Linked DNA regions of Homo sapiens. The protein of the gene in region 1 interacts with the protein of each later gene in a biochemical or structural test. Each region holds a gene or a part of one and is shown in the gene's direction. Other genes may lie near its edges.

Region 1 (8,904 bases):
GGGTGTCTCAATGATTGGAGGAGGAGAAAAATACTTCCTGTGTTATATTTTTCTCTTCCCCTTCAGCCCCCACAGCGAGCTGTATTTCAGTTGTCAAGTACAAAACTCAGAAATGTGGTATGGGTGGAACTATTGGAATATACGATCAGATGTTTTAAAAGAAACACCAGTACTTCGGGGTTGTACGGGGCAAGCATGTTCCATTTCTAGATTTTAAGGCCTCTAGAATTGTTTTCCTGCTGCTCTCATACTCAACCCTGTTACAGTGCTTTGCTTTCTACTGTAAGTTATTGCTCTGGGATCTCGGTTGTTGTTTAGTGTTGACTGTTGGAGAGGGGATAAGTATCTTCAACACTTCAACATTTGTGTCTTAGACTTCTCTTTCCCTACTCATAACTGAAGGGAAAGGAGGAGGAGGAGTTGTTTGGATTGAGCATGGCTCTGACCTTGGGGACTGGAGTTGGGTGAATACAGTTTGACCACAGTTAACCTGTATCATTGAGGAAGTGACAGACGGTCTTTACAGGAGTGTTTGCTGTCCCCTCTGAGACACCATCTGCCTTCACCCATTAGTAGTTTGGGGACACTGGCTGTTCATTCTCTTGGATATTTGGAATATTATGTAAAGACTTCAGAACAAAAGCTCCCAACTTCTGCTCTGTATTCTGTTTAATAGACACACGCACAAAATCATCCTATAAAATGCTTTTGAGTGGCAATTCAGATTTCTCTTGTAACTAACGAGAGAGAGGTTTACATATTTTTCTACTTTGAATAGTTTTGGAAGGAAAAATCCAGCAGCGTGTTAAATAACACTCATAGTTTATCCCTCTCAGGTTAGAAGTGGGCGAAGAGTGAAGTCAGTCTGTTTTGACAGGCAGCCTGCTCCCAGATCTTTTAAGTTGACTCAACTGTTAAATTGTGGATTTCCCACACACGTCTTTGTGTTAAAACTTAATAATGGAGGAAGAAAGGAGAGACAAGGCATTTGGAGACTGACAGCAGTGTTAACAGCACTTCCATATCCAAATATTGGCTGAGACATAATTACAGCTGTGGGGGGAATCTGGTTCAAAGAACGCTGTTCCAGAGACACACACCAAAGAGATTTCTAGATCTTGAATTTTGATTAACCTCAGGTGCTGAGTAGTGAAATGGTTTTCAAAACCAGAAGTCTAGTGATTATAAAGCAGGAGAGGAAGATGGAGTGGGGCAAGAGGGATTACCCCCTTGGGAAGGTGCCTGAGAAAAGGGGAGGAGACCTCTATTCTACAGTGTGCCGAGGCCAATGCTGGGGGCTAGGGCAGAGCTGGAGGGCAGGAGCCCAGCCTCTGCTGGGGTTCAGAAGTCTGCTATGTTGCAGCCCTGAGAGTTGATGGGAGCTGGCAGCTGCTTAGATGCTCTCCTCTCTGCCTATAGTCGGTGACCTCTTAGCCCTGTTAAGTGAAATCAGCATTTGAAAAAGAGTCCCAGCTCACCCTGCTGCTTCTCTCCCTCCACCTCAGAGAGCTCCCATTTAAATGCTTTTGGTGGGTGCTTTGACCTCACCTCACCATCTCTCCTGGCTGCTTTTGCTAAGTTCTGAGTCATGCTTCCAGTCAGAGTTGCAAGGGACTTGAAAGGTCATTTTGTCCAGCCCCCTTATTTTGCAGAAGAGAAAACCAAGGCCCAGAGTGAGGGAGTGACTTGTTCAAGGTACCATAGCCATTCACTTGGCAGAGGCAGGATTGGAACCCAGGTTGCCTGACTCCCAGTCTCAGGCTTCTTCCCACTTACTTCCTAACTGAGCCACGGGCTCAGGCACATGGCCACCTGCTGCTCCAGGGTGCTTCCAGCCTGAGGAGCTGTTCTGTCACCTCAGGCCCTGACTGACAAGAGGGGAGGTCAGCGAAGGGGGCTGGATGGGTATTTGCTGCTCCTGAGAACAGTCCCCAAAGTTGGAGGGGAACTTCAACAGTAGCTTCATGCATTTTTTTAACCACTCCCTCCCCCTTTTAAGAGAGTATTTGATAGGCACCTTACTTACTATTTTTTGTACAAGAACATGGGAATTCTATTATTTTTATTTTTATTTTTTTTGAGACAGAGTGTTGCTCTGTCGCCCAGGTTAGAGTGCAGTAGCACGATCTTGGCTCACTGCAAGCTCTGCTTCCCAGGTCCACGCCATTCTGCCTCAGCCTCCTGAGTAGCTGGGACTACAGGCGCCCGTCACCATGCCCGGCTAATTTTTTGTATTTTTAGTAGAGATGGGGTTTCACTGTGTTATTCAGGATGGTCTTGATCTCCTGACCTCGTGATCTGCCTGCCTCAGCCTGCCTAAGTGCTGGGATTACAGGTGTGAGCTACCGCGCCCGGCCTGTATTACTTCTTTGATAAGGACACCTAGTCTCAACCCACTTGTGTATTAATTAGTTGTATTCCCCGGGAGGGTTCCTCAGCTGCTTGCCGCTTCACTGTGTCATGGTGACCCTTAGGTGTTAGCTCAACAAATTTAATTAAAGACTGTATCGTTGTTCTCTGCTGTGCAACTCTGATTAGGTGAAGCATGTTACTGCTTTATAAAATATAGAATGTTGTCGTAACTTATCTCTGTGTATCTTTCCATTGCGTGGATTAGAGAAAACAAGGTCCTGTAGTTTCTTTTCCTTTCCTTTCTCCAGCATTCCTCTCTCCCTAGGTCATGGAAGTGCCACTGCGATGTGGCTTCCTTTGTTCTGGTGAAGGGGAGATGATTGGAGCCTCTCATGATTATTCTGGATGCTGTTGGAGGGAAATGCCAGAGCTCCCACATCCCCACAGTACAGGCACCATCTCCTTTCCAACACACCTCATACTGTGTACCTGTGGAGGGCAAGACAGTTAGTGTGGCTAGGTGAGAGGCAGTGTCCCAAACTGGAGTTTGCTGGAGTTGTCACAAGGTTAGGAAAATTTCATTGACCAAGCCAGCCTCTTTTATATGCAATATGGTTACAGGTAGGTAACAGTTTGCTGAATATCTATCATAAGCTTAGTTGCATGGAGGATACACATGTAAAAAATGGCCTGTAAAATTTTGAGTCAAGAAACTTATTTAGAGAAGGTGAAATTAACACATGTAGGCTAGGGCTGCACTGTCCAATCTGGTAGCCACTACCCTCACATAGCTAATTAAATTAAAATTAATTAACATGAATGGATTAAACTAAATTAAATTTGAAAAATCAGTTGCTAGCCACACTTCAAGTGTTCAGTAAACATGTGGCTAATGGCTATCGAATTGAACAATGCAGAAGAACATTTTCATCCTTGCAGAACGTTCTCCTAGACTTTGTTGGTCTGGGAGCTAAATCGTGTGGCTGGGAATAGAGGAGCTTTGAAAGAGGGGAATCTGTGGTGACTCCAGGAGCTAAGGGAGGCTCCAGCTGGGGTCAGTGGGACATGGCTGTGCCTCTGAGGAGTGAGCAAGTCTGTGAGAGGTGTGGTGACATTGGCCTGGCTAGAACTGAGGGGAGGAACAGGAGGTCAGAGTGGTCAGGGGTTGGTGGCTCCAAATTGAAGCTAACTCATCTTGTGTCAAAGCAGGCTTTAAAGTGTTTGAGGGGCATGAAGGTGTCAAAAAAGGTTAGGAATCATTGAAGATGGGCTTACAGAATTATGAGGGAAGGGTCAGGTTTGTGGTTTCAGAGATCCTGTCCCTCCTGGCCGTAGCCCTGACCCCAGCCCTGACCCCTGGCTCCTGCAGCAGGGCCCTTGGCATCCACTGAGGCAAGATTGAAGCTGGGTCAGCTCACTGTCCTTTTTTACTTGTGAATTCTGGGCTTTGACTGAGCTTGGAGACAATCTCCAGCTAAGATACGGGATCAGTGGCTGACAGGAGGGGAGAGACAAGCAGTCCCTGGGCCTTAGGGCCAAATATTGGTGGGTGTCTAGGAAACAAAAGAACCCCTTTGTGGGAGGAGGAAGGTATTGGGACCTGTGATGTTTCTGCTACTTGGGACCTGAGAGGTTGGGCCATCCATAATTGATGATTTTTCTTATGAAGCAGGTACAGGGGATTGGGAGGAGGGCCTGGAAGAGCCCAGCCTCAGAACTGCTGGAGGCAAACTTAATCCTTGGGCTAGGGGAGGGGCCAAAGCTCCTGTTAGCCAGAGCCCAGGAGTGTGCTGAGTGGGTGCCAGGAGGAATGTCAGCCAAGATGGGGAAGAGCAGGGCACAGTCGTCTGCATCTGAGCCATTGCCCAGTTCCCAAGCAGCCTTGCCATGCTCTGAGCTGGGGTTCTTCCTGGTGGCGTGATGTCTGTGGTGCAGGATTCACTCTATTCTCCTACCTTTCCTCTACTTCAGGCCCTGCCAAGTGTCATGTGAGGTCTCTTTTCCCCCTCTTCCCTGCACTGTATCTTTCCAGATGGTTCTGTGTCCTGGAGGGAGGTGGATGGGCAGAGAAGAGTTGTTCTTTGCAGGGACTGCAGCTTTTCTTGGTAATGGTTTGAGGCCCAGTGGCAAAGCAACCCACACTTCATAGTAACTTAGAACCCACACTCCCTGGTCATCTTTCTTGACTCCTTGCACATCACTGAGGAAGAAGCTGGCCTAGTGCAGAAATGTTCAGTGGCATGTCCAAGGTCTTACATGGTGTCAGCATCCGAGCCACATCTTGAGACCTGGTTCCCTGGGACCTGCTCTTGGTCTGGGCCCCTTTGGTTTTTGGTTGCTAGAAGACTGTAGACCTGGTGGAGCAAAACTGAGCTCCACTAACGCATCAGCTAGGATCTTTCCACATGGGTTACCTTGTAAATGGGGGCATTGGTGAAGAGAAGGGGCCATGTCACTGGACAGTGTAATAACGTATGGCAGTTATAGAACCCAAATCAGATTGCTGTGTACCTTTTCTAGTTTTTAGGAAAATACTGGTATTTTGTATTTTAAGATATATATATATATATATATATACACACATACACAGATATAGATATGTAGAGATGAGCTTGTTACCATGGGTTATGTGCTAGATAAGAAAGCAAAAATAAGTGCATACATAAATAGAAAGCTTCCAGTGTTTGTATGCTGCTAACAAGTTACATGACCTTGAATAGGTCAGCTAAACTTTCCAGGCCTCATTGCACAGAGGGTCGGCTCGAGCAGCTCCTGAGCACCGGCAGGGTGAGGCAGTAGAAGGCGGTGCTGCAGGCCAGAGGTGGAGGGCAGGCAGGATAGCTTGCTGACTTGCTCCGGGTCTGACCATCAGCAGTATCTGGGTCAGCACAGATGCCCTTTCGTAAGCTTAGTGCCTGGCTCCAGGGCAGCCTGTGTCCAGTTAATGAATAATCATCACTGACCAGCTGCTCCTTCTCTTGTGTGAAGACTTAGAAAGTGTTCTATGCTGGTGACTCGGCAGAGAGGATAGACTACGTAATTTAGCAGGGTGTGCATCTTCTCTTTCCTTAAAATCAGAAGAATCATAGTGTAGTGGTGGTGCAAAGTAGAGATGAGGAACTCTATTCCCTGTTTGAGATTCCTTTCTCAAGTTATGGGGCATTTGAGGGCCACTGTGATTTCTGGTGCAGGCTGTTCCCTGTGCACAGGGATCTGGTTGAGGAGCTAAGCGAAGGCTGAAGTCCAGCCACTGTCTCCTTGCTTGGCTTTGTCTTTGTGTGTGGCTGGGTTCTTTCAAAGGAGTGCCTTCTAATTCACCAAAGGTATGGTTATGGATTAGGGGTTGTTCTTAGGTTAGAGTTGGGGACTGATTCACAGAGCTGATGAGGAAATTAGGATTTACATTCAGGTGACCCTCAGCCCCTCAGACCAGGCTGAGTAAGAAGAGATATCAGGAATCCAAGGAAGCAGGAGGAAAAGGGGTTGCCTGGTGATGTCTGTTCTCTTTCCTCCTCTTCCTGCCCATGCAAGGCTAGAGCAGCTGTTTCAGCCCCGGAGGTTTAGACTGTGGGGTCCTGTGTGCTGGGCCATCAGGTTTGGTGGGAGGAGGAAGAAAGCCACAGTAGAAGGAGACATAAAGTTGGGCTGGGCCTCTGGCAGTGAAAGGTTCTTGGGGTCTTTATTGTCTGATCAGTAAACACCTCTGTGTGCCAGAATGAGCTGGGACAAGGCCCCAAGGTCAGCCCATATTTGTATCTGGTGTTCTCCTCCAAGACCAGCCAAGCTGTGCGCTCATTCTGCTGGGAACCTGAGCCCTCCAAAAGGGTCATATGAAAGGGCATCTTATTCTTGAGGGACGTTTCCAAGCATCTCTGTGGCCAGTGTCCATCCAGGACTCATCTTAGAGGTGAAGAGTGGTGGCCAGAGGCGGAAGCTAGTGGCCACCCGATGGGAGCCTTTTCTGTTTCAGAGCATATGAGGGAGCTGAGGGAGCTGTACTGTTGATGCCTTCTCTCTGGCTCATCTCCATGAAGATTCTTTTGAACCAGAAGCAAAGGTGAAGTCTCTCTGAGGGGAGGGGCTGAACAGGAGATCTACTGACTGTCCCCCTGCCGACTCCTCCACTTTCGTCCTCCGGCGGGGCTCCTTATCCTCCTGCTTGTCTACAGGGAGAAGATCGAGTTGTTCGTTTGCTGCCATTTTAATGATCCACATTGTTAGGAGGCTCTCAGTACACACCGGACCTTAGCAGCCTGGCCTCCTGCCCAGGGCCCAGAACTGTTACTCAGCCCCTCTGCCGAACAGCTAAAAATAAACCTGCCACTGCTGCAGTCTCCCCTCACAGCCAGGCCCTGTTAGCTGTCCCAGTGCTTCCTGCCACACCGCTGACCTGTTTCTCTCACTTTCTGCTGATATTCTCCCTGCTTGCCCCTTTCTCTTCCAGCCTGAGCTTGGTAGGTGATTTGGGGCTAACTCACTCTTCTGAGTGCTGGGAGACGTGCTATGGTTTTTATGTCTCCAGGTGTCTAGATTTGTGTGTATGAAAGCTCCGTGAAGCTGTCCTGCTTATTTCCCAGTAGGGAAAGGGTTAGACAAAAAGGAGAGTGACCAAGCTCATCAGAGTGGATCAGACCTTCTACTGTGCTCGCCTCCAGCCCTGGCTTCCTCCAGTTTTACCTCCAAGCAGGCCTCTTTGCCAGAGTTACCTGGTTATGGTAACAGAGTTACCATAGTTATATGCTAGGACAGCCCCACATGGGCAGTCTGCCCCAGGCCTTCAACCCGACTGCCCTGTCACCGAGCATGCTACCTACCGTGTACTCCTGCCCTGTTGCTACGTTATATTCTCCACCTCCGCAGTGTGAGGCTTTGGGCTACCACATTCAAAAGTGTGACCTCATCTTGTCAGCGTCCAAGAATAACTGGGCCCTGGCTCTCAGGATCTCCTTCCTGAGTCAGGCCATGGCACCTCTGGCCCTTCCAGCTCAGCCACATGCAGAATGTCACCGAGTGCATGGGTTTCTTCTACCTCTTGACTGCAGTATTGATGTGTGTCCATGGAGGTGTGGCCTCTTCCTCTACTCCCCAGGGATCCTGGAGACTTGTGGAGCAAGATGAGGAAAGGGGCTCAGGTAGCTAGAATATTTGCTTAGCTGATAGATACTGGGCAGAGTCTGACATTGGCATTCTGTTCTTCAGCGTGGCGTTAGTATTCTTTCTGATTTTTTCTAATCCCTAGACAGGTGTTGATACTAATCGTGGCCTAGGAGGGCTCTATGTCTGCTTTCAGGAATTATGGTTTATTTGGGGGAAGGGGTGTATGGTGGAGAGTGATGGCAATGACAACCAAGACATAGGACTTGAGGAACCCACTGCCTTCAGCTAGAGTTACATACTCTGACCATGTGTCGATGGCCTCCTTCTCCCACCTCTCCCCTGGGGCCACATTTCCTCTGCAAGGAAAGATTTATCTGCCAAGGCCCATTGGCCTGTGCAGAGGAAGAGTTGGGCATAGTTGCTAAGTGTTTATTTTTAACTCTGACAGAAGGAGCCCCTGTCCTCAGAATAGCCATACCCTCTGTCTTTCCCTATCCCGACTGCCTTCCTTGGCTTCTGTGATTCCTAGAAGAAGGTTAGTAGGATTCTAAAGGCCAGGCTTCACGGGAGCTGGAGAAGGCTAGCTTCTCTAAGTGAGGAATCTGCAGGTTGCTCGTCATGCTTGGCTTCTGCAGAGCTCAAAGGGTCCTGCGGGGAGAGCCCTGGACACTAAAGGCCGTGTGTCTGGAACTTGGAGAATTCTAGGAATGCAGGTGACCTGATGAGGAGGCTGCATGTGCCCTGCAGCTCAGAGCAGCCTGGCTGCACAGCTGAGTTGGACAGCCCAGCAAGGGGTCATCCCATACCTTCTACATCCTTACAGGCACCCAGATCTCTGGCAGATGGGGAGGCCACAGGGAGAAAATGAGCATATGTAGTAACCTGCCCTGGAAACACTTGCGCTTGCAGACACGCCAAGTGCTGTCATTCCCTCTGACTGCCAGGCTCACGAGCATCATGTCCTTTCCAGCAGAGCCCACCTGCGACTCTTAGTGACTTCATACCCTTTGTGTTCTCTTCCCCTGATGTGCTTTAGTGACCTGTGCTCACAGAGAGGAGGAGGAAGGGTGGCAGTGCCCCCTCTCCTGGGTCTCAGACTTTCCTGACTTTATGCATTTGATTTGGCTACCTGGGCTCGGATACTTTAAAAGAAAATAAAATTAGGTTTGAGGTGTAACCAGAGAGAGAAGGAATAGAGAGTAGTAGGGGGTGGGATGGGTGGTTGAAACATGTGGCTAACTCTGAGAACCCTCAGCTATGGAAGGAAGGTCTTGCCCCCATGATTCTTCGGCGTGCAGTGGGGGATTAGTTTGCCCAGAGCCCAGCTCTGATCATGTAGCTTCCCAGCTTAAGCCCTTCAGTGGGTCTCTCTGCCTGCAGAATACATGAGATATCCACATCTTTCCCAGATCTGGCCCTGATCTGTTTTTTTTTTTTTTTTTGGAACACATGCTT
Region 2 (8,842 bases), on another chromosome or scaffold:
TGCTGTCAGACGGGCAGGGGCGTTGCTAGCTCTACTTTGCAAATAGGGACATGTGGGCTCAGAGTGGTCACCAGGACAGCAGCACCCACATTCAAGCCCAGCCCTATCTGTCCCCAAAACCCAGTTTCTGCCCTACCACCCACCTCACCCCCATGCTGCCAGAAACCACCCATCTCCTCTCCCTTGTGGGTGATCTAAAAGTCGTCCCTCAAGAACTGAGCCCTTAGCCAGGCTGGTCTTGAACTCCTGACCTCAAGCAATCCACCCACTTCGGCCTCCCAACGTGTTGGGATTACAGCTGTTAGCCACCGCGCCCAGCCCGTGGTGGTGCACGCCCGTAGTCCCACCTACTCAGGAGGCAGGAGAATTGCTTGAACCTGGGAAGCAGAGGTTGTAGTGAGCTGAGATTGTGCCACTGCACTCCAGCCGGCGCAACAGAGCAAAACTCCATCTCAAAAAAAACAAAACTGAGCCCTTGAAGATGAACGTGAATTCCGAGGGAGTGAGCAGAGTGTGTGGGTTTGGTGCCTTGAGTTGCACAATCTCTCAGGCAGCAGGAATAGATCCAGTCCGTCCTGGTTTCAGGCAAGATGAAGGGAGCTTGTGTCTACAAAGGGCTGGCAGCTCCCATCCAGAGCATGGCTGGGCCTGATAGAGCCACACCTGGAAGCATTTATAACCACACCTGACAGCTCCCTCTGGGGTGGGGCACCCCCAGCTCCCGTCTGGGCCAAGGTGAGCAGGCAGAGGCAGATGAGGGCCCTCCCTGGCTCCTGACCTCACCTCGACTTTATACAGCTGGGGATGGGTGGGGCTGGGAGCACTGGGGAGCAAAAACCTGGGGCTTTCTGATGCTGTCCCATGGGGTGTCAACCAGGAGCTCCCAAATGAGACCCACTGGGCTCATGACAATGACCCAGCCAGGGAGGTGAGGTAGAAGGCAGGGGTCCTGTCTGCCTCCCACCATTGGCTCCCGAGAGCCCCAGGAGTTCAGAGGCCTTTCCAGGAGTGATCTCAGATTCATGGTCCAGCCCCAGCTCTTCCCTGATGGGGAGCAGGTGGGTAAGACAGAAAGGCATCTAGGGCCGGTGGCTCACACCTGTAATCCCAGCACTCTGGGAGGCGAGGCAGGTGGATCACGAGGCCAGGAGATCAAGACCATCCTGACTAACACAGTGAAACCCTGTCTCTACTAAAAAAAAAAAAAAAACAATACAAAAAATTAGCCGGGCGTGGTGGTGGGCGCCTGTAGTCCCAGCTACTCTGGAGGCTGAGGCAGGAGAATGGCGTGAACCCGGGAGGCGGAGCTTGCAGTGAGCCAAGATCGCACCACTGCACTCCAGCCTGGGTGACAGAGTGAGACTCCGTCTCAAAAAAAAAAAGAAAGAAAGAAAGGCATCTAGGTCGGGCGCAGTGGCTCACGCCTGTGATCCCAGTGCTTTGGGAGGCCTAGGCAGAAAGATCTCTTGGGGCCAGGAGTTCAAGACTAGTCTGGGCAACATGGTGCGACACCTGTCTCTACAAAAAATTTAAAAATTAGCCAAGTGTGGTGGCACACATCTGTAGTCCCAGTGACTCAGGAGGCTGAAGCAGAAGAATCACTTGAGCCCAGGAGGTCAAGACTGCAATGAGCTATGATCACTCCACTGCACTCCAGCCTGGGCAACACAGCGAGACTCTGTCTCAACAAAAAAAAAAAAAAAAAAGGAGAGAGAGAAAGGCATTTATGAGCTCTCTCTCAAAAAGGAAACTGAGGCTCAGAGAAGGCATGAGGACTTGCTGCTTCCCCAGCTCATCAAGGTGAGTGGCCTGGAGTCTGCCCCGATTCTGGGCCTGGGCAGGGCAAGACTTCAGTGGCCTTGGCTCCCCATAGAAGTAGGAGGAGTGGAGCCTCAGTCCCAGGATAGGGACAGCAAGTACAGTGGGACAGAAGAAGTGGGAGGCCCTGGGTACTAGAGAGGCAGGAGGTTGGCTCTGAGAGCACTTTACCGGAGACAGCAGAAAGCCATTTAATCTCTGTGCACAGCAGTTTCCTTGTCTAAAAACCAGGGATAACAGGGCCGGGTGCGGTGGCTCACACCTGTAATCCCAGCACTTTGGGAGGCCGAGACAGGTGGCTGACTTGAGGTCAGGAGTTTGAGACCAACATGGCGAAACCCTGTTTCTACTAAAAATACAAAAATTAGCCGGGTGTGGTGGCTCATGCCTGTAATCCCAGCACTTTGGGAGGCCAAGGCAGGCGGCTCACTTGAGGTCAGGAGTTTGAGACCAACATGGCGAAACCCCGTTTCTACTAAAAATACAGAAATTAGCCGGGTATGGTGGCACATGCCTGTAATCCCAGCCACTTGGGAGTCTGAGGCAGGAGGATCGCTTGAACCCAGGAGGCGGAGGTTGCAGTGAGCTGAGATTGCGCCACTGCACTCCAGCCTGAGTGATAGAGTGAGACTCTGGCTCAAAAAAAAAAAAAAAAAAAAGACAAAAAAAAAAAAAACAACAACAACTAAAACAGGGACCTAAGTCAGGGGAGAAGGAAGGCTGGAATGGCCATGCCTACAAAGACAGGAAAGAGGGAATGTCAGGGTTGTGGCAGGAGCCTAGGGCAGCACCCTCCCTCCAAGCTGGGAGATAGGAGCCAGGATCCCATTGGTGTTTAGATGGATGAGGTAGGGTCAAGGGGCAAGCTCCAGGCTCTAAGCACTTCTGTGCAGACTCTACTACTTGGAGCTCCCCTCTCCCTCTGTGATGTGGGCATCAAAATCTGCAGAAAGGGAAACTGAGGCCTAGAGAAAGGAGGGGATTTGCCCAGAATGACACAGGAAGTCCAGACTAATTCAAGTTTGCGGCATTTGAGGTTCCTGGCCAGTGTTTCTTTTTCTTTTTTGTTTTTTCTTTTTTGTTTGAGACAGAGTCTCGTTCTGTCACCGAGGCTGGAGTGCAGTGGCGCGATCTCAGCTCCCCGCAACCTCTGCCTCCTGGAATGATCCTCGTGCCTCAGCTTCCCCAGTAGCCGGGATTACAGGCACCCATCACACCTGGCTAATTTTTTGTATTTTTGGCAGACACGGGGTTTCGGCATGTTGGCCAGGCTGGTCTTGAACTCCTGAACCCAGGCAATAAGTCTGCCTCAGACTCTCAAAGTGCTGGGATTACAGGTGGGAGCCACCACGCCCGGCCAACCAGTGCTTCTTAAGGAAAGATACATATAGTAGGAGATGTGACAGTAATCTTCCTCCTGGCCCCTCTCAGCACTGTGCCATGGAGGTTCTGATCTGGGCCAGCTGCGCTGTTAGGGGAAGGGGGAAAATGGCCAAACCCCATGTATTCTCCTTCCTTTTCCCTCTCTTCAATCCCAGGCAGGTAACAATAATTATGATGTACCAGGCTCCGGGCCAAAGTCATCACCTGCATTAGGTCACCAAATCCTCAGGCCAACCCATTACAGTCATGAGTCACTTAATAACAGACACATTCAACAAATTCCTTGTTAGGCAATTTCATCATTGTGGGAACATCTCAGAGTGGACTTACACAAACCTAGATGGTCTAGCCTACTACACACCTAAGCCATATGGTCTAGCCTACTGCTCCTAGGCTACAAACCTCTACAGCATATGACTGCACCAAATATTGAAGGCAGCTGCAACATGAGGGTAAGTATTAGTGTTTCTAAAGATAGAAGATGGCCAGGCGCGGTGGCTCACGCCTGTAATCCTAGCACTTTGGGAGGCCCAGGCGGGTGGATTACTTGAGGTCAGGAGTTCAAGACCAGCCTGGCGAACATGGTGAAACCCCATCTGTACTAAAAATACAAAAATTAGCCAGTGTCGCGGCACTTGCCTGTAGTCCCAGCTACTCAGGAGGCTGAGGCAGAAGAATCACTTGAACCTGGGAGGTAGAGGTTGGAGTGAGCCTAGATCAGGCCACTGCACTCCAGCCTGGGCGACAGAGGGAGACTCCATCTCAAAATAAATAAATAAATAAATAAATAAAACATAGAAGATGTACAGTAAAAACACGGTAATTGTTTTTGTTTGTTTGTTTTGAGACAGGGTCTTGTTCTGTCATGCGGACTGGAGTGCAGTGGCACCATCAGGCTCACTGCAGCCTCGACCTCCTTGGCTCAAGTGCTCCTCCCACCTCAGCCTCCTGAGTATCTGGGACTACAGGTCCACGCCACCATGCCTGGCTAATTTGTTCTGAATTTTAGTAGAGATGGGGTCTCACTGTGTTGCCCAGGCTTGTTCCAGCCTTCTGGCTTCAAGTAATCCTCCCACATCAGCCTCCCAAAGTGCTAAGATTACAGATGTCAGCCACTGCACCCAGCCAGTAATATAATTTTATGGGACCACCTTCATATTTGCTGTCCCTTGCTGACTTACACATCTTTATGCAATGCATGACTGTTACCATCATTATCATCTCTATTTTCCAGATGGGGAAACTGAGGCACAAAGAATCTAACTTGCACAAGTTCATCTGCTTAGTGATGGAACAAAGATGTGAATTCAGGCAGTCTGGCTTCAAAGTCCACACGCCTAACAACCACACCAGATTACTAGATTGCTTTTTTCTTTTTTCTTTTTTTTTTTTTGAGATGGAGTCTCACTCTGTCACCCAGGCTGGAGTACAGTGGTGAGATCTCGGCTCACTGCAACCTCTGCCTTCTGGGTTCAAGCAATTCTCCTGCCTCAGCCTCCCCAGCAGCTGCGATTACAGGCGCCCGCCACCACACCCAGCTAATTTTTGTATTTTTAGTAGAGATGGGGTTTCACCATGTTGGCCAGGCTGGTCTCAAACTCCTGACCTCTGGTGATCCTCCCACCTCGGTCTCCCAAAGTGCTGGGATTACAGGCGTGAGCCACCACGCCCAGCCCAGACTGCTTTATTTTTGTATTTGTATTTATTCATTTACTTATTTTGAGACAGGGTTTTGCTCTGTAGCCCAGGCTGAAGTGCAGTGGTGCAATCCAGCTCACCACAGCCTCTACTCACCGGGGTTCAAAGGATCCTCCTGCTTCAGCCTCTGGAGTAGCTGGGGCCACAGGCATGCACCACCATGCCCAGCTAATTTTTAAATATTTTTTGGTAGAAGTAGGGTCTCACTATGTTGCCCAGACTGGTCTCAAACTCCTAGCCTCAAGGGACCCTTCTGCCTTGGCCTCCCAAAGTGCTGAGATTACAGGCATGAGCCATGCACCCAGCCCCTTTTTAAAATTTTTTTGAGAGACAAGACTTTGATCTGTTGCCTAGGCTGGAGTGCAGTGGTGAGATCATAGCTCACTGCAGCCTCAACTCCTGGGCTCAAGCACCAGACTCCTTTTATCACATTCTATCTCACACGCGTGTGGTTCCAATCCTGCCTCTGCCACTTCTCAGTTGTATGCCCCAACCCAACCTGTCTGGCTCTGTCCTCCTTAACAGAAGGACGGCCCTGGCCACGGGCCACAGCCAGCAACGCTTAAGCACCAGGGCCGGCGAGTGCCCTGCCGTGGCACGGCTCCAGCGTCGCGCTCTCGAATTCATTTGCTTTCCTTAACGAGAGAAGGTTCCAGATGAGGGCTGAACCCTCTTCGCCCCGCCCACGGCCCCTGAACGCTGGGGGAGGAGTGCATGGGGAGGGGCGGCCCTCAAACGGGTCATTGCCATTAATAGAGACCTCAAACACCGCCTGCTAAAAATACCCGACTGGAGGAGCATAAAAGCGCAGCCGAGCCCAGCGCCCCGCACTTTTCTGAGCAGACGTCCAGAGCAGAGTCAGCCAGCATGACCGAGCGCCGCGTCCCCTTCTCGCTCCTGCGGGGCCCCAGCTGGGACCCCTTCCGCGACTGGTACCCGCATAGCCGCCTCTTCGACCAGGCCTTCGGGCTGCCCCGGCTGCCGGAGGAGTGGTCGCAGTGGTTAGGCGGCAGCAGCTGGCCAGGCTACGTGCGCCCCCTGCCCCCCGCCGCCATCGAGAGCCCCGCAGTGGCCGCGCCCGCCTACAGCCGCGCGCTCAGCCGGCAACTCAGCAGCGGGGTCTCGGAGATCCGGCACACTGCGGACCGCTGGCGCGTGTCCCTGGATGTCAACCACTTCGCCCCGGACGAGCTGACGGTCAAGACCAAGGATGGCGTGGTGGAGATCACCGGTGAGCCCCCCTGCTCCTGCAGGGGAGAGGAGGAGGCTAGCAGGGCGGGCAGGGCCGGGGGCGTGCGGTTGAAACGGGGGTCCCGGGGGCCTGGGGAGTTAAACGTTGGCCCAGCACCGGGAAAAACAGGACTCCTGATTCCCTTGCTCAGGAATTGGGAGTGCGGGTCGCTTCTAAGGGCGCTTTCTGCTCTGTAATCCCAGCGCTTTGGGAGGCCGAGACGGGAGGATCGCTTGAGGCCAGGAGTTCAAGACTAGCCTGGGCAACATAGCGAGACGCGCCCCCCCGCCCCGACCCCGCGCCATTACAAAAAAAAAGCAAACAAAAATTTTTTTAAAGATCATCGATGAAGAGAGAAAATGCGCTTTTCTACAGAGTCCCCTTCCCACCCACAGCCCCATCCCCAGATAAGCGGGGAGTTCCCTGGCGCGGTGCCAGTTTCTAGCCGCTGAGTGGGCGTGTGCGCGGCTCCAAGTGCGCCTGCGTACTGCTCACTCCCCAGCTCCGCGCCCTGCTCCGTTCCTCCCAAAACTCTGAATCGAAGAACTTTCCGGAAGTTTCTGAGAGCCCAGACCGGCGGGCACGCCCCCATCCCCAACCCCCTCTGTTAATCCCTACCAGCCTGCAGTCCTGGCTGCTTCCAAGCAGGAGGTGGGGCCTCTGGCCTAGCGGGGCCGAAAGGCAGTCCCCTCCCCCGCAGTCTGATTTCCCTCTTCCCCCCAAAGGCAAGCACGAGGAGCGGCAGGACGAGCATGGCTACATCTCCCGGTGCTTCACGCGGAAATACACGTGAGTCCTGGCGCCAGGTCGGGGTGGGTGGGTGGCGTGGGGGTGGGGTCAGGGAAGAGGGCACAGGGACCCACCCGGTGTGTAATGTAACGCTTGCCTTTCCTCTCTGCACGTCCAGGCTGCCCCCCGGTGTGGACCCCACCCAAGTTTCCTCCTCCCTGTCCCCTGAGGGCACACTGACCGTGGAGGCCCCCATGCCCAAGCTAGCCACGCAGTCCAACGAGATCACCATCCCAGTCACCTTCGAGTCGCGGGCCCAGCTTGGGGGCCCAGAAGCTGCAAAATCCGATGAGACTGCCGCCAAGTAAAGCCTTAGCCCGGATGCCCACCCCTGCTGCCGCCACTGGCTGTGCCTCCCCCGCCACCTGTGTGTTCTTTTGATACATTTATCTTCTGTTTTTCTCAAATAAAGTTCAAAGCAACCACCTGTCACTGGCCCAGGCCCTGGTGTTTGTGGAAGGAAGCCTCAGGCACCTGCCATTTGCTGGCTTTCAGGAGTCATCTTTGCTCAGGCCCGTGCTGGGCCATGTGGGTACACTGGTGTAGGTTGCTGGACACAGGCTGACTCACATCCATAAAGACAGAGGTCTTAGGGCCGGGCGCAGTGGCTCATACCTACAATCCCAGCACTTTGGGGGGTTGAAGCAGGAGGAGTGCTTGAAGCCAAGAGTTCTAGACCAGCCTGGACAACATAGTAAGACTGTCTCTAAAAAATAAAAATTAGGCAGGGTGGTACTGCACGCCTGTAGTCCCAGCTACTCAGGAGGCTGAGGCAGGAGGATCGCTTGAGCCCAGGAGTTGTGAAGGGTACAGTGAGCTAACATCGTGCCATTGCACTCCAGCCTGGGCAACAGAACAAGATCCTGTCTCAAAACAACCAAAAGCCCAGAGAGAAAGAGTGAGACCCCATCTTTAAAAGAAAAAAAAAAAAGGTCATGATTGCAAGGTCACGATTGCAATTAAAACTGTAAGGTGGGGAAGGAGGAGGAAATAAGAGAAGCACCTGAGGCTTGAGTTCTCAGGAGCACCTAGGTTGGGTCCCAGGTGAAGGGGCACAGAGGTAATTGCACCTCAGAGCTGATGGGAGGATTACTATGTCAAAAGCTTGGCATCGGCTTCAGCACACCCCAAGGACACCACAGTGGACCTGGCAAGCTTTGAGATCTCTGTCACCGCCACACTCCCTGAGGCCAGGGCATCCCTGTTGGCAGTCACAAGGGAACTGGCAAGCCGAAATGGGGTGAGAACGGAGCCCGCAGAGTCTCGGGGTGGGGAGATTGGGCAGAGCCCTGGCCAACCGACGGGCTCAGACCTGTGCTGCTGGCTGGGCCAGCAGCTCTTGTTGCCTGTGTTTATTTCCAGCTGGCCTCCCTCCAGGTGTAGACAGGCTTCCAAGGGCCCAGTTCCCCTCTCTCTTGTCTGCCCTTGCCCTAGCTGCCACCCTCTCACCAGGCCCAGGGAAAGTTGAGGTAGAAAGCAGATGGGGGACCAGGCGCGGTGGCTCACACCTATAATCCCAGCACTTTGGGAGGCCGAGGCGGGTGGATTACCTGAGGACAGGAGTTCGAGACAGCCTGGCCAACAGTGAAACTCCGTCTCTACTAAAAGTACAAAAATTAGCCGGGCATGGTGTTGCATGCCTGTAATTCCAGCTACTCAGGAGGCTGAGGCAGGGGAATCGCTTGAACCCAGGAGGCAGAAGTTGCAGTGAGCCAAGATCCATGCCACTGCCCTCCAGCTTGGGGGACAAGAGCAAAACTCCATCTAAAAAAAAAAAACAAAAAACAGATGGGAGCTTTGGAGCTCAGTCCCAAGGTCCTCAAATATTTGAGGGACCCAGAGTCTGAGGCTGTAGCAAGATACTCCCATGTTCAAGGCGGAGCATGCAGTGAGCCGAGATCGTGCCACTGCACTCCAGCCTGG
Region 3 (4,810 bases), on another chromosome or scaffold:
AGGAGGGGGTATCAATTAAGCAGAGACTGATTGGAAGGGGACCTAACGTAGCCTATGATAGACTCCTTTCTGAGGTTTACCTGTTTTTGTCGCGGGCGGTGGCGGGGGCGGGGTGCGGTAATCTAGAGAGGTCTGGGTTGTGTGAGATATTTTGAGTTGAAGAATCTATTTGACTAGTAAAAAAGTTGAACTTTAAAGTGGTAGCTTTGGGGACAGAGGACATGGGGGTTGCATTGCAGGAGTCAGCATGGAGCAGGGTGCTTGTCACACAGTTTGGATCTTGTGGTTTCTTACGCATGGGGCCAAAATAAACCCAGGTGAATGGCCTATGGGAGGGAGAGAGGGAAGGGAGCTTGCTAGAGCCGAGGTAGAGATGAGTTCTTTGAGAAAGAGCGGGCGTTTGTGATTGTGTAGGGGGCTGCCCATAGTGGACATCCTGGTGGATGTCCTCTGTCCTTACCATCCTTTCTCTTCTCTCTCCAGGGTAACAAGATGCTCAACTATAGTGCTCCCAGTGCAGGGGGTTGCCTGCTGGACAGAAAGGCAGTGGGCACCCCTGCTGGTGGGGGCTTCCCTCGGAGGCACTCAGTCACCCTGCCCAGCTCCAAGTTCCACCAGAACCAGCTCCTCAGCAGCCTCAAGGGTGAGCCAGCCCCCGCTCTGAGCTCGCGAGACAGCCGCTTCCGAGACCGCTCCTTCTCGGAAGGGGGCGAGCGGCTGCTGCCCACCCAGAAGCAGCCCGGGGGCGGCCAGGTCAACTCCAGCCGCTACAAGACGGAGCTGTGCCGCCCCTTTGAGGAAAACGGTGCCTGTAAGTACGGGGACAAGTGCCAGTTCGCACACGGCATCCACGAGCTCCGCAGCCTGACCCGCCACCCCAAGTACAAGACGGAGCTGTGCCGCACCTTCCACACCATCGGCTTTTGCCCCTACGGGCCCCGCTGCCACTTCATCCACAACGCTGAAGAGCGCCGTGCCCTGGCCGGGGCCCGGGACCTCTCCGCTGACCGTCCCCGCCTCCAGCATAGCTTTAGCTTTGCTGGGTTTCCCAGTGCCGCTGCCACCGCCGCTGCCACCGGGCTGCTGGACAGCCCCACGTCCATCACCCCACCCCCTATTCTGAGCGCCGATGACCTCCTGGGCTCACCTACCCTGCCCGATGGCACCAATAACCCTTTTGCCTTCTCCAGCCAGGAGCTGGCAAGCCTCTTTGCCCCTAGCATGGGGCTGCCCGGGGGTGGCTCCCCGACCACCTTCCTCTTCCGGCCCATGTCCGAGTCCCCTCACATGTTTGACTCTCCCCCCAGCCCTCAGGATTCTCTCTCGGACCAGGAGGGCTACCTGAGCAGCTCCAGCAGCAGCCACAGTGGCTCAGACTCCCCGACCTTGGACAACTCAAGACGCCTGCCCATCTTCAGCAGACTTTCCATCTCAGATGACTAAGCCAGGGTAGGGAGGGACCTCCTGCCTACTCCAGCCCCTACCCTGCACCCACATCCCATACCCTCTTCTCCCTACCCATCCCATTCCCCACAGGCCCTACATTAACAAGGTTAAGCTCAACCCCTTTCCCCCAGCACCTCAGAATGTGCCCTCCCTCTCCCCCTCATAACCCCACCTAACATAAGGACAAGTCAATTTGTCAGTAGCTTCTTCTGGCTTGAAACCCCCTCCCTGGATTTTATAGCCCACTTACCATGCATAACAGACAAGTCCCATATTTTGTCAGTAGATGCCTTTTTTTTTCCGGCTTAAGCCTTAAGTGCCAAATCACAAGAGAAAAAGCAGTAACAGTTTACAGAAGCAACTTAGTGCCTTGTAATCTAACTTTGTCACTGTGACTACATTACCTCTTCAGCGCCAGAGGGCACCCGTGGGCCTCCCGGAGCCTCTGCCCATGGCGGGGTGGAGACCCGGAACCAGCAGCCCCCTCCACTGGCGACACAACTGCACCTTCCCTCATTTCAGTCTCCCGCACACTTATTCCTCCTCCCCTCTTCCCGGTGGCACCTCTCCACCTGTACCCGCCCCCCCACCCCCCCCACCCCTGCCCCTTGGAAGAGTTGTTGCCAGACCAGGGTTTTGGGGGAAACCTGTCTTGACATTCAAAACCTTTTTCTTCCCGATCTGAACCCCTGTTGACTAATCTTGCCTGGGTTTGTGTAGGTCTGCAGGAAGGAAGGCTGAAAAAGCGGACGAAGATTTTGACTTAAGTGGGACTTTGTGATTTAATTTTTTCTTTTTTTTAAGTGGGGAGGAAGGGGAAGCTAGATGGACTAGGAGAGACTTGATTTTGGTGCTAAAGTTCCCCAGTTCATATGTGACATCTTTTTAAAAAAAATAACAACAAAAAAAAAATGAGAGAAAAGCTAAAAAAAAAAAAGTAAGGGGTGAGCAGTTAATGGTATTCATTCCACATACAATATCTGTGTAAAACGATTTCCTGTAGAAGTAGCTTTAATGGTTTTTGCTCTAGAATACCGTAGGTCTATCCTTAGAGCACTCACGCCATGCTTTCTTCCCTGGGTTTTAAACTTCATATAACTTTCAGAAATTGGAGAGCAAAAATTTTGCTTGTCACTGCACATCAATATAAAAAAGCTTATTTAACTTATCAAAACGTATTTATTGCCAAACTATGCTTTTTTTTGTTAATTTTGTTCATATTTATCGGGATGACAAATCCATAGAATATATTCTTTTATGTTAAATTATGATCTTCATATTAATCTTAAAATTTTGTGACGTGTCTTTTTCCTTTTTTTCCACAGTTTTAATATATTATTCTTCAACGACATTTTTTGTAACTTTACACTTTTTTGGTTATTTTATTTTAAAAAAATGAAAAATTAATTTAAAAAAATGCAAAAAACTGTTGGATTATTTATTTTAGAAATTCCCCCCTTTGTGTTGGACTGCAAATTGAGTTTCTTTCTCTTTAGGCCTTTCACAACTAGGACTGAGAATGTATGTAAAAGTTCTGTGACAGTACAGAAGGAAAACAACTTTTTATGTATAGCTTCTAAAAGGGGAAAAAAAAAAAAAGAGAAACCCTTTGACTTCCACGTGCCCATCTCAAGACATTCCACTCACAGATTTGAGGTTCTGGATTCCAGGTCTGGAGTTTTCCAATGTTAATGTAAACAGAACTGGCACACACACATTAAGATGAATGTAATTATTATTCCTCTTGCTGGTCACTACCGTCGCTTTCTATTTCTCTTTCTTTGTGTGAATTTATTTAAAAGAAAAAAAAACTTTTTGTAACGACTATTTGCAGTTTAAAAATCAATAAACCCCGTTTTTTCAAGAAACATTGATGGTGGAGCTGGTTTTACTTGGTTTTGGTTTGACTTTGCCAGTAAGGTTCTCCCCTTGTATACCTTGCAAGTCCTGGGTAGGGGGAGGCGGAGAGAGAGGGCTGTGGCTGTGGGTGGCGGCATCTCTCATCCCTATAAGCTAAGCCTATAGCTCCCTTCCTTGATGCTGGCAGTTTGCTGCGCTTAGAGGGGACGGGGTGGAGGTTTTCTGCAAAGGAGCCTGTACTTCCTGCTGTATTACTTCTGAAAAGACTGTGCAGTGTGTTAGTTGTTGGCTGAATAGCAGCGGGCCCAGCCTTGCCGACACTTGTGTGGCCTCTGCGGTTCTTCTGGGGAGCCAAGGCTCAGGGCCTTCCAGTCCGCCCCGTCCAGCCTGTGCTCTTCATTCCTTTGGATGGTGTTTGGGGTGCCAAAATGATAAAAGAGGACCTAGCACTTGGCACACTTGCAGGCTTGGATTTGAGTGAGTTCTTTTATTGGGGTGCCTTGGGCTCATTTTGCCCATAAGAAAGAAATTTACCTCAGTACTGGCCTCTCAACACCTACCCGTGTGGGGAGGGTATAAGGAAGCACTGCCTGCTTGGAGAGGAATGTCCAGCGGGGTGAGGGGCTCAGTCACAAGGAACTGGGAACTGGGACTGGATTTGACATAGCCTTTTGGGTTTGGAGGGCTGTTAAGGGGAAGTGAGTGTTAACACTGGCCAACACAACACAGCAAGTCACCAAGGGTTCCCACCACCTTAGTTACAATCTCAGGTGCTATGCAAAATTAGGTATGTCGTCATCTTGGGAAAGGTGGGGTCTCCTTGGCTAGATGCACCCCCACCAAGGCTAGATGACCACTTAAGAGGTGGCATTTCACCCGCCGGAGGAGTTGGAACTTTCACAAATCTTGAGTGTGAGCCTTGGGAGGATTTATTTGGGGAGAGGCAGAGATTGCTATTTGCAGCTCACTTGCCTTTGGTTCCTTTACACCCAGGAAGTTTTGGGAGTTCAGCTGAGTCACCATGATTCCACCAGGCCTCTTCCGAAGGTCTGCAGCAGACATTGGGCAGGCCAGGGATGTCCCTGAGACTCGAAGACCTACCTCTACTCTCAACTCATTTCCCTGGTCATCAGATATCTACTGGGGGTCAGGGGGTGAGGTAGAAAAATAGGGACTATTACCTGTTCCAGGGCAGGGGCTGGTGGTTTAGGAAGGGGAAAAGCAGCCCTTCTTAGGACTGGAGTAAACCTAGGCCTCTTGTCCCTTAAGGAGGAAATGAACTTTGTGTGTGTGTGGAGGTGGTGGTGGTGGTGGTTGGTGGTGGCATGTGATCTTCCTTTCGGAGTAAAAGCAAAAAAGACATTTAATCATTCACCTTGAGCTCATTCCCTGCAGGCATACCTGAGCATGTGGCAGACACCTTTCTAACTTCCCCTCTCATGGTGACGCTGGTTAGGTTCCTAGAGGCCCAGGCGTACCTCCTGGCCAGCCCTGAATTTCCTCT

The links.
Region 2: of the proteins of MAPKAPK2 (region 1) and HSPB1, one has a biochemical effect on the other in vitro, tested with the Homo sapiens proteins (17 studies listed by BioGRID and IntAct, with this or other methods).
Region 3: of the proteins of MAPKAPK2 (region 1) and ZFP36L1, one has a biochemical effect on the other in vitro, tested with the Homo sapiens proteins (2 studies listed by BioGRID).

What each region holds. Positions count from the first base shown.
Region 1 is NC_000001.11:206,686,577-206,695,480, forward strand, and holds part of MAPKAPK2 (MAP kinase-activated protein kinase 2), read left to right. Parts: intron 1-8,904. UniProt on the Homo sapiens protein: Stress-activated serine/threonine-protein kinase involved in cytokine production, endocytosis, reorganization of the cytoskeleton, cell migration, cell cycle control, chromatin remodeling, DNA damage response and transcriptional regulation.
Region 2 is NC_000007.14:76,296,947-76,305,788, forward strand, and holds HSPB1 (heat shock protein beta-1), read left to right. Parts: upstream 1-5,726; 5' UTR 5,727-5,766; coding exon 5,767-6,130; intron 6,131-6,855; coding exon 6,856-6,919; intron 6,920-7,037; coding exon 7,038-7,227; 3' UTR 7,228-7,346; downstream 7,347-8,842. UniProt on the Homo sapiens protein: Small heat shock protein which functions as a molecular chaperone probably maintaining denatured proteins in a folding-competent state. Plays a role in stress resistance and actin organization.
Region 3 is NC_000014.9:68,786,166-68,790,975, reverse strand, and holds the end of ZFP36L1 (mRNA decay activator protein ZFP36L1), read left to right. Parts: intron 1-483; coding exon 484-1,443; 3' UTR 1,444-3,314; downstream 3,315-4,810. UniProt on the Homo sapiens protein: Zinc-finger RNA-binding protein that destabilizes several cytoplasmic AU-rich element (ARE)-containing mRNA transcripts by promoting their poly(A) tail removal or deadenylation, and hence provide a mechanism for attenuating protein synthesis.